3 linked regions of the Homo sapiens genome follow. The protein of the gene in region 2 purifies or fractionates together with the protein of the main gene of each other region. This does not show direct contact. Each region holds a gene or a part of one and is shown on either strand. Other genes may lie near its edges.

Region 1 (3,651 bases), on a different chromosome or scaffold from region 2:
CACTTTAAAAAATAGCGGGGGTGGGTGCAGTTTGAAAACCACCAGACTAAATCATGACTAAGGTTGTGTGGAGATACAAAATACCATGACTCAAACACAATACTAACATTAAAATTAAGAGAACAGCACGTGGGATTTAATTGTAAGCAATAAAACTTACTGCAGGTCCTAGATTAAAGGACGGATTCAACCAACCAACAGGATGAAATCGATGTGGCAAAATTTGAAGAGACTAAGCATGATGTTTGAAGAGTTTTCTAATAAACTAATAATTTTCTAGTATTTTTTTCTAAGCAAATAGATTTCTATATTCTTTTAAACTACAAAATCAGTATAAATAAGATTTAAAAAATGTGTATCTTCATGGGGCAAAATCATACACACAAATATTTCACTTTTGTATTAGTTTTCATCTAACCACTTATTTTCTACTATTTAATAAGGTACAAAATTTTGGCCAGGGGCGGTGGCTCACACCTGTAATCTCAGCACTTTGGGAGGCTGAGGTGGGTGGATCATGAGGTCAGGAGATCGAGACCATCCTGGCTAACACGGTGAAACCCCATCTCTACTAAATATACAAATAATTAGCCTGGCATGGTGGCGGGTGCCTGTAATCCCAGCTACTCGGGAGGCTGAGACAGGAGAATGGCGTGAACCCAGGAGGCAGAGTTTGCAGTGAGCAGAGATCACGCCACTGCACTCCAGCCTGGGTGACAGAGCGAGACTCCGTCTCAAAAAAAAAAAAAAAAAAAAAAAAAAGAGTACATAATTTTACATTCTGATTTTTCTCTTACCATATCATCATTTCACTACCTTTTAATTGCTGCATCAAGTTGCTAAATCATAACTCTTCTTATATAATTCATATAACTCTTGTTATACTGCTGTACATGGGTTTATAATTTTTACTTTTACAGATAACATTTTGTATATAAAATAGCTGTTTTTTTCTTCTGCAGATTTAAGATATACTCCCAGGAAAAGAATTACTGGTTTAGCTGGAGTGTTTTGCTTTTTTTTTTCCCTAAATAGACCTAACAGATTATACTGGTACTGACTTCTTCAGTATAAGCTGTAGAGTCTGCCAATCCTCCCAACTCAGCTTCCTGAGTAGCTAGGACTACAGGCGTGTGCCACCAGGCCCAGCTAATTTTCTTTTATTTCTTTTTGTAGAGACAGGGGATTCCCTATGTTGCCCAGGCTGGTCTTGAATTCCTGGGCTCTAACGATTCATCTGCCTTGGCCTCCCAAAGTGCTGGACTACAGGCATGAGCCAGGGTGCCCAGCCAGGTTTATTATCTATCTTCTCAGTTCCTTTTCAAGTTGGCACTGACAAGAGGAAGAAATTAAGATTTGAAGAGGTAGAGAAGGGAACTTACATGGTCTGGTTCCAGCTGGCAGTGTCGAGCCAAGGCGTGAAGCAGCCTCTGAATGTAAGCTTTGAAGATGCCATGAATAACTTCATCGTTAGTTTTGTACAAATGTTCCCCCAGTCGGTACCAAAAGTTAAATGAAATTTCTACTACCTGTTAGGTTAAAAGAGATGATTTATTTGAATGGGAAAGGAATAGAATAAGAAGACATTTTATTATCACCACGACCATATAGGAAGAAAGATATATTTTTAAATAATATGAGTGGAGCCAGTTAAGAAGTCACCTTTTCTCTAGCAGATTTACTATTATCTCCCCAAATTGTCTTCCCACGTTAGGCCCAAATCTCCATTTAGAATGACTGGCTTTACATTCCATTTAGTCCTGAGGTAATGCCTCCAAAAGTATACTGAATTTTGAATTTAGAGAAAACAATAACAGACATGGAAGTCTTTATTTTTATTTATTTTTTAGAGACGGAGTTTCATTCTGTTGCCCCAGCTAGAGTGCAGTGGAATGAACACAGTTCACTGCTGCCTCAAACTCCTGAGCTCAAGTGATCCTCCTGCCTCAGCCTCCCAAGTAGCTGGGACTACAGGTACACACCACCAAGCTCAGCTAATTTTTTTTTTTTTTTTTTTTTTTAGTAGAAACAGGGCCTTGCCATCTTGCTCAGGATGGTTTTGAACTCCTGCCCTCAAGTAATCCTCCCACCTAGGTCTCCCAAAGTGCTGGGACTACAGGCATGAGCCACCACATAGTTTTATTTTATTTAAAACAAATTTCAGCCAGGCGCGAAACACCATCTCTAAAAAAATACAAAAATTAGCCAGGCATGTAGGTGGCACATGCCTGTATTCCCAGCTACTCAGGAGGCTGAGGTTGGAGGATCACCTGAGCCCAGGAGGCTGAGGCTACAGTGAGCTGTGATTGCACCACAGCATTCCAGCCTAGGCAACAGAGTGAGACCCTGTCTCAAAAGATATATATATTTTCTTTAGAGACAGGGTCGCCTAGGCTGGAGCACAGTGGCACAATCATGGCTCACTGCAGCCTTGAACTTCTGGGCTCAAGCAATCCTTCCACACAGCCTCCTGAGTAGCTAGGAGGACTACAGGCGCTTGCCACCATGTCTGGCTAATTTTTAAAATTTTCTGTAGCGACAGGGTCTTGCTCTGCCATCTAGGCTGGAGTACAGTGGTGTAATCATGGCTCACTGCAGCCTCAAACTCCTGGGCTCAAGTGATCCTCCCATTCAGCCTCCTGAGTAGCTGGGATGAAAGGTGTGCACCACCACACCCAGCTAATTTTTTAAATTTTCTGTAGAGACAAGGTCTTGCTTTGTTGCCCAGGCTGGTCTCGAACTCATGGGCTCAAGCAATCCTCCCACCTCAGCCTCCAAAAGTGTTAAGAGGTATGAACCTCATTAGAGGTATAAACCACTGTGCCCAGCCAGAAGTCTTTTTATTTTTATTTATTTATTTTTTTTGAGATGGAGTCTTGCTCTGTCACCCAGGCTGGAGTACAGTGGTGTGATCTTGGCTCACTGCAACTTCCACCTCCTGGGTTCAAGTGATTCTCCTGCCTCAGCCTCCTGAGTAGCTGCGATTACAGGTGCGCACCATCACCCCAGCTAATTTTTGTATTTTTAGTAAAGATGGGGTTTCATCATGTTGGTCAGGCTGGTCTTGAACTCCTGACCTTATGATCTGCCCACCTCGGCCTCCCAAGGTGCTGACAGGCGTGAGCCACTGCGCCCGGCCAGAAGTCTTTTTTAAAGTACTTTTCTGAAAATTCTGAAATCATTTCATTGAATGTTTGAGATTAGAACATTTCTTACTTGGCAAACCATCTGTAACTCCTGAACATAACTGATTCAGCTTCATGTCACTTTTATTCACCTGTTTCCTTGAGTGTGAGAGAAAGGGAGAAAAAGCCTGGGATTTTACTCGTAGCCTCTTTTCCATATGGTACTGTTTAAAGGAGTGATAACTGCGTGGTGTTACATTCTCCCAGAAATGTTTTGGGTTCCATTCAAATCTAGGTATCCTCGTAACATTATGTAAAACAAATAAACGTTGTCTTGTATGTGATAACAGAAAACAGGCCGAGAGTCACAGGACCACTGTGCCTAAGGCACAGTAAGAGGATCCCTACCATCCTTTTCCCATCAAGGATCCAAAACAGAGCTATTTAAAACAATGCCCAACTTGGGAGCACTTCTTTCTCACTTTTTTTTTTTTTTTTGAGACGGAGTTTCGCTCGTCTCCCAGGC
Region 2 (3,751 bases):
GTTCCTGCCCTTTGGGCCCACAAAGAGAAATTAAAATCTCTCCTCCACATGACAGCCCTTTGGATAGTTGAATCCAGCAGTAATACACCCATCCGAGGCCTTCTCTTTTCCATCTAAACACTGCCAGTCTCTGTGATAGTTTTTCTGGTTGCTCATCTCTGAAAAGGCTCTAGTTTGGGGTGAGACAGAAGCTCTGAGCACGAAGTTGGTGCTCAGTAATAGGGGCCCTTGTTCCTTTGGTGGCCACTCCCCTTCTCTGCCATTGACCTTGGGAGGGACAGAATCCAACTACCGATGAGAGCCTCCCCCATGATGGAGCTGCTGGGAGCAGGCTCAGATCCCCATGTATGGGAAGGACTTTCTCTCACACACTCTGTTATTAGGCTCTGATGGAGGAGATGCTCTCGGTGGAGGGTGGAGTTGGAGTATGACCATCTGAATTAGAAGACTTGGAAAGGGAGTATTTTCACTTGGGGCCCCCAGTGCAGTTGTGTGCTTGGGCTAAAAGTCAGAAACCAGAGATTTAGCAAGACCAGTGCAAACGCCCCAAGTATGTGAAAGAGTATGTGGCTCGTGGATCCCCAGTCTGCCTTACCCAGCACAGTAAGGTTGATTAGCCCCAACCCATTGGTGTAGAAATCTGGTGGGTTGTTGACTTGGCAGAGGTAGGTTCCAGTATCTGAGGGGTGGACGTCAGTCAGTTTCAGTGTGGCCACCCCCACTGTGGGGGGGTTCTGAAGCAGGCTGACCCGCTTTGACTTAGAACCAGTTGGATACAGATGGCCATTGGTGAAGTACAGGATCTGGGGAGAGGCAGAAGACACACATATGTGCCTGTTTCTGCCTGGCATCAACTCTACAGTCCTTCCTCATCAAAGTGGGTATAAGAGGCCTCTGACTTACATCAGCCAGGGAGGCTGATACCCTTAAGCTGGAACTCCAAAGGTCTCTCTGTCCCCAAACACCACCCCCTTTCAGGTGCTAAATGAACCTGATCCATTGGTCTCTCTCTCTCTCTCTCAAAGAGAGAGGCAGAAGAGGCAGCATATTATCTTGGTATCAGTCACAACACCTTAGTGTCAATGGATACACTAAGGCAGGGGAGTTGGAAATAGGAGCTATGGAAGAGGAAAGGAAGATACACGGTCAGGCAGACTGCAGCTCTGAAAAGATCTAGGGAGAGCCCACTTACCTTTTCATCCAAGCATACTGATCCCCAAACTCCCCCTCCCGACCCCATGCCCTCATCCTGGGCTCCTGTCCCTCCAGGCCAACCCAGCTTCATGCAGTCGCTCTCAGCTCACTGGATGGGACTCAGAGATGGGTTTCCCAGGCTGCACAAAGCTCCACTCCAGGGCGAAGCTGTCTCCCACCGACGTGCTGTAGGTGCAGGTCAGCTCGGCTGTCTTCCCCAGGGGCGTGCTCAGCGGCTCTGTGGGTACCTTCACCTCCACGGCCAGCCCTGGGGCCGGGGACCAGAGGGAGGTGGGAACCCAAATTCCAGTGATCTGGAGGGTCGGGCCCACCCCCGGGCATCTATATTGGAAGCTGGGGGCTCCCTCCCCAGAGCACAACCCTCTCCCCTCAATCCAACCCCTCCCTTCCCAAAACCTGAGGTTTCCGGGAGGGGCCGGGTCTTTGTGGGTAAAAGAGCCGGAACCGGGCCAGGTAAGAGGGTGTGTGTGTTTAGCAGAGAAAGGAAAACACTAGCCCTGCGGTGGGGTGGTTCAGGCCTGTGCCGCGGAGAGGCCCAACTCGCTCGCCGGCTTGGGGGTCTCTCTCCTACGCCCTCCGGGCCTTGGACACCCCCTCTCCGGCCTCACCTCAGGCGCCTTAGGGCCCCTGGCGCCCACGGCAGCCTCATCTGGCCTGGCGGGGACAGAGTGGGTCCGAGGAGCCGGGGAAGCCAGGCCTATGCCCCCCAGCCCTCGCCGTGGTCCCGCCCGGCCCCTCCTCACCACTCAGGCACAGGAAGCCTAGCAGGGCCCCGCAGAGAAAGGGCCCCGGGAGCTCGGCCATGGCCGCGTCCGGCCGTCCTGTCCTGCTCCTGCCAGGTGGGCGGTCAAGGTCGGTCTGGGTGTCGGGCAGGGAAGGGAGCACCCAAGGGCAGCCGCCCGGGCTGGGCAGGAGCGAGACTGGTATCTCAGAGCAAACAGGGGAGAGGCCGGCGCCGCAGGTTAAAAAAAAAAAAAAGTGCTCCTCCCTCCTCTCCTCCAGCCCCGATTCTGCAATCCCTCTGTCCCTTCTTCCTCCTTCCTTCCTCTTCTCCCCAAGGTCTGAAGCTGTCCGGCCTTGGGAAAAGCGCTGGGCTTGGGGTGGGCCTTCTGCAGAGACGGAAGGAAAGCTGACTTTGGAAGGCGTCCTGATACCCCAGAGCTGGCAAGGGGAGTCCCCACCTCGGAGCCTCACTGTGAGTGTGAGCCCCAGGCCGCAGACCCTTCCTGTCCACAGCGCTTTTCATTTCACCACTTACTGAGGTAGGAGTCTCTGTAGAAATGAGCATCTCTCCATTTCCAGAGCCACTCCATTTTAGGGGCAGAGAAACTGAGACCTAAAGGAGACCTCACCCTTGGTAGGAAAGAACATGGCAGAACTTGGACACAGACCTGCACCTCATACTATGCCCAGCTCTCCCTCAGTAACAACAGAGATCTCTTCCAGATGGGCAAGGAGTGTTTTGTTAAGGATTCCGTGGTGTGGGAGAGGAGCCCACGTGAGCTTCCTCTCCCCTGTCCCTGAAGAGGAAGCAGATGAGGTACACGTACCCCCTAGCCGGGAGCACTCAAGCTCCAGCAGAAAGCGTATCAACTCCATCCCTCTGCTGTTCAGAGTAGCTTAGAGTCTCCTCCCCTTCTCCACGTGACAAACAAGGACCCTTCTAAACACTAGAAGAGCTGCTCTAAGCCTGTGGGGGGAAGCCCTCCTGGGTACACAGCTTGGGAAGGGGTCCACTTTGCATCCTCCTGAAGCTCAATTTCAAGAATTCTTAGTTTGAAAAGGCAACTTGTTTCTTATCTCATACAAACATTATGTATCTTTATTTAAATTTGCAAATGAAAACAACACATATTTCATGTTAGTTTTAATAAGAGATTCCCTATCCTCTGCCCCAGTAAAACCTAACCAAGCCAGCCTGACAGGTTATATCAATACAGGGAGCTGGAGTGGGAGCCAAGGGTGGTGTTAGATAGGGGTGGGGTACAGATCAAGGGGGCCTGGGAGACTCAGTGACTGGAAGTCTCTGCCCCTCACTCTTGGTGAGTAGCTAATTTCAGCAGCTGGCTTCATAAGGAGGAGTCAGGGGTGGGTGGAGGCTCCTCCCAATTCCAGATCCACTTCCTCTTCTCCTTCTGTCTCCTGGACACTTAGGTCTTACTGAGATGGTTTTCCCACAGTAAAGAGAGGTGGGGGCAGAGTACTAAGGGTCAGGAGTGTGACTCTTTCCCATGACTCAGGCCTCTGTGCTAGAGGTGACCCTTATAGGAAGGAGAGACCCCAAATCCTTTAGCCAATGAGTGGTGGGGTCATCATACCAGAGAGCCAGCTTGACTCTGGGCAGGCACCATCACAGGCACAGCACCCATGCGGCTCAAGCCAGAGGAAGAAACCCCACCAGGGATGGGGGATATTGGTTGAGGGTGGGCCCCATCTGTCGTGGGCAGTCTTGGTGAGGGCAGGGCCTGGCTGGAGAGACTGGGCGTGGGGGTCAATGCACCAGGCCTGGGAGGGCCATGGGGTGGCCGGAGGGCTC
Region 3 (3,651 bases), on a different chromosome or scaffold from region 2:
TGGGCTGCTCTATTCATAAGGAAGGTCGGAAAAATACTCAGTATCCTCTTGAGGTCCCTGCCATTCCTATGATTCCAGAGCAACACACTTAACATTTAGAGTACTGACTGTACTCTACCTTTGCATTTCTGCCATGTCTCTCTCCTGTTGATGCAGTTTCATTCTTAAGGATGTTATTTCTTGCCGACAGAGCCTGTATCGTTCAGGGTCAATATTCCGACTGTTTCTCTGAGCAGCTTTTAGCTTTGCAATTTCTGCCTTCAATTCTGAAGATTTATACAAAGATGCATTAATAATAACATTTAATATATAACAATTTCCACAGTAAGCATAATCCTCCAATCTTCTATTTCATTTGAAGTTTTAAATACAGTATTACTAAATAAAATAGAATATTGGAGAAATCAGCTCTACTTTATATAACCTATAAATCTTTACTTAGTCTTAACCTGAAATATGCTCCCATATTAATGAACTTTCCCTGTTCATAAGTAGGAAAGCTGTATAATGTACTGACCAAAGTGGAACACTTTTGAGAGGCAAAAGGGTAATTGTTAAAGTGAAAGTTTATTTAAAAAGTAAAGAAATAAAAGAATGGCTATTCACTAGGCAGAACAGCCAAGATCAAAGATTTTTCAAGCTGGAATTCAGAATATTTATTTATTTATTTATTTAGACAGAGTCTCACTGTCTAGAGTGCAGTGGTACGATCTCGGCTCATTGCAACCTCCGCCTCCTGGGCTCAAGCAATTCTCCTGCCTCAGCTTCCCGAGTAGCCAGGATTACAGGTGCCCACCACTGTGTCTGGCTAATTTTTGTATTTTTAGTAGAGACAGGGTTTCCCCATGTTGGCCAGGCTGGTCTCGAACTCCTGACCTTAAGTAGTCCGCCTGCGTTAGCCTCTCAAAGTGCTGGGATTATAGGCATGAGCCACCATGCCCGGCCCAGAATACTTATTTTTAATGAAAACAGTCCCACTTGTGAAACAGAAGGGATCCAAAAGGGAAAGGATGGACCAGGATAGACAAATCAGATTCTTCTCTGGCTCATACATCTGAAGTGTCTATCACCTTCTGCTGCTAAAAAGGGCCAGAGGACAAAGGGGCATGAAAAGATGATAGTTCTACATCAGCAAAGATAAAACTGTACAAATCAAGATTTCTTGCAGGCATTAAAGTCTATCCTAAATTGATGATTACCTAGAGATAAATAGAAAGCAGTATTTAGCATAAATGAAGTTCAGCCTATACTAGAAACTCGAGCTCCAATTGCCTTTGGATCAATGAACTAAGCATGAGCAGAGCTAGTACATAAAACGTCAATGGAAGAGAGGTCATAAGAGAAAAATAGTAAATAGTTTTATTGGCATTTTGCTGCACACGTCTATGACTGTGTAAATTTATTGTTTAATGCTTACTGTTTCCCCCTTACTCACACTCTGTTTTCTATGTTCTTTTCCTAATTGTTTTTCTCCTTATTACTTATTATCTGTCCTTCTACCTATCATCCTCCATCACTATAGGCTGATGACTAGAATCTATTAAAATAGGTATAGAAAAACACCTTTGATGTTCATAAATTACATATTTTAAGACTGCAACTAATATCTGGGACTAAACTGTGGCAAAACAATTTTTAAATTCTGAGAAAATATTCACCTCTAATTAACTTAGCGTTCATATCTTCATTTACTTTAGCAATGTTGACTATTAAACGGGCTTGGTTAGCATATCTAAGTGTGCTTAATGTTTCTTCTATGTTGCTGGCAGCGGGACTAATCGTAGCAATCATTGCAGTTTTTGAATTTCCACCCAGACTTTCTTTTAACAGCCTACAAGAAAAAAAGTCATAAGACTTTGCTTCTACAACAACTTAATAACAGTAATTATCTAGAAAGCACAAAACAAACTAATAGGGTATATAATACAGTATTATTATACTCTACTCAAATACCATTTAAAACTTTTCTGGTATTTGTAACTATTTCTAGATCTCATAAACACTTTTTCTCTCTTACACTTTTTATATTGTTTCAAGAGGCAATAATCTGTGCAGAGATTCTAAAATGTGGTGGATCATCAAGTATTTCATGACTGTGAGCTACCATAGGGAAGGGACTATGTGTCTTGGTCATCTTTGTATTTCCAGTGCTACCACAACCTTTTGAAGCAGGTGCTCAATAAATGTTGAAAATGATGAACATTGAAACAAAAATTCTATATTGTACTAAAAGCAAAATCTTTATTTTAGAGAAAAAGAGTATGAGACTTAAAACATATATTAGTGCAGAATGAATGTCACTATTTTTAACTTTCATAAGACATGAAAAAAATCAGATTTTCCCTTATAGGTTTCAAGGTGGCAATCACATTGTAATAAACCAATTATAAAGACACATTACCCTCAAGTAAAGATGCAGTCCTTATTGTAACTGTATATTAATGCCTATCACAACTGAATATTAAATCCATACAGATGTAATCTGAATGTAACATATTGAAAATTAAATATACATTCACTAATGAAAACATTTATTGAGCACCCATGTATTAGTCACTGTGTAGTAAGCAAACAAAATTATTCAACTTCTCTTTATACAACTAGCAATATGTTTGGTAGTACCATATATGTTCAAACATCAGCCACAAATAATAGTTAAGTACAAGAACAGTTATTTACACTCATATAGTACATATTATGTATTAAGAATTGTACACTAATAATCTAATTCTCACTTACCCCTAAAAGGTATTGATTTTATTCCTATTTTACAGATGAGGAAACGGGCTAGAATATTAAGTAATTTGCCCAAAGTCACAGAGCTTATAAGATGCTGAGCTGAGATTCAAATCCAGGTAGTTTGGCTCTAGAATTCATAATGCTTACCACCTTTCTCCATCCCAAAGTTAATGAAGTCAGTCTATCATTCTTTTCCCCATAGTATTCACTATATTTTATACAATTCTTTATACTTCAAAAGATACTTGCCATGTAAGAACAGATTCACGATAAGGAATAAAAACACTCCTTTGGTTTGCTTGTTCCGAAAGTGCAGATATAACTTTTCCCAAAGTTAGCAAGGACTTATTAATACTCACACCTTCCTGCATGCAAGAAAAAAAAAATTTTTAACTTAAAATACTTCTCAGCAAGAAATTTATTTCACAAAATATATTTCTCCCCTCATATAATTACTGAGTAAATACTTTTTTACTTTCTTTTTTTTTGAGACAGAGTCTCACTCTGTTGCCCAGGCTGGAGTGCAGTGGCATAAACATGGCTCACTGTAGCCTCGACCATCCAGGCTCAAGCAATCCTCCCACCTGAACCAAGTAGCTGGGACTACAGACACATGCCACAATGCCTGTCTATAAATACTTTTTTCTATAAACTACCAACTTTCTTATGACTCAAACGTATTTTCTTTAAAAATTAATCATAACCAAAAAGTACGTATCTCTTTTTCAACCACAGCAATGCAGTCTATAAACTGCAGATAAAGATATATTTGGGGAGGTTAAGTGTATTCAGTTTGTATTCTCCTTAAAATAATGACCTCAGGAATAAATTTCATCAAAAGGAGAAAAAGCATTCCATTTACCTTTAGTCGATCTCCATTAGTGTGAGCCGTAGAGCAGCGCTCACTGCCTG

The links.
Region 1: the proteins of VSIG2 (region 2) and TNPO3 purify together in Homo sapiens (affinity purification with mass spectrometry; 3 studies listed by BioGRID and IntAct, with this or other methods). This does not show direct contact.
Region 3: the proteins of VSIG2 (region 2) and KIF14 purify together in Homo sapiens (affinity purification with mass spectrometry; 3 studies listed by BioGRID and IntAct, with this or other methods). This does not show direct contact.

The regions. Positions count from the first base shown.
Region 1 is NC_000007.14:128,996,007-128,999,657, forward strand, and holds part of TNPO3 (transportin-3), read right to left. Parts: intron 3,285-3,651; exon of another isoform or gene 3,217-3,284; intron 1,530-3,216; coding exon 1,383-1,529; intron 1-1,382. UniProt on the Homo sapiens protein: Importin, which transports target proteins into the nucleus. Specifically mediates the nuclear import of splicing factor serine/arginine (SR) proteins, such as RBM4, SFRS1 and SFRS2, by recognizing phosphorylated SR domains.
Region 2 is NC_000011.10:124,750,119-124,753,869, forward strand, and holds the start of VSIG2 (V-set and immunoglobulin domain-containing protein 2 isoform 1 precursor), read right to left. Parts: upstream 2,138-3,751; 5' UTR 2,020-2,137; coding exon 1,959-2,019; intron 1,463-1,958; coding exon 1,305-1,462; intron 804-1,304; coding exon 596-803; intron 1-595. Other genes in the region: ESAM (endothelial cell-selective adhesion molecule precursor), read right to left, coding at 3,528-3,751.
Region 3 is NC_000001.11:200,600,238-200,603,888, forward strand, and holds part of KIF14 (kinesin-like protein KIF14), read right to left. Parts: coding exon 3,602-3,651; intron 3,105-3,601; coding exon 2,989-3,104; intron 1,832-2,988; coding exon 1,659-1,831; intron 267-1,658; coding exon 119-266; intron 1-118. UniProt on the Homo sapiens protein: Microtubule motor protein that binds to microtubules with high affinity through each tubulin heterodimer and has an ATPase activity. Plays a role in many processes like cell division, cytokinesis and also in cell proliferation and apoptosis.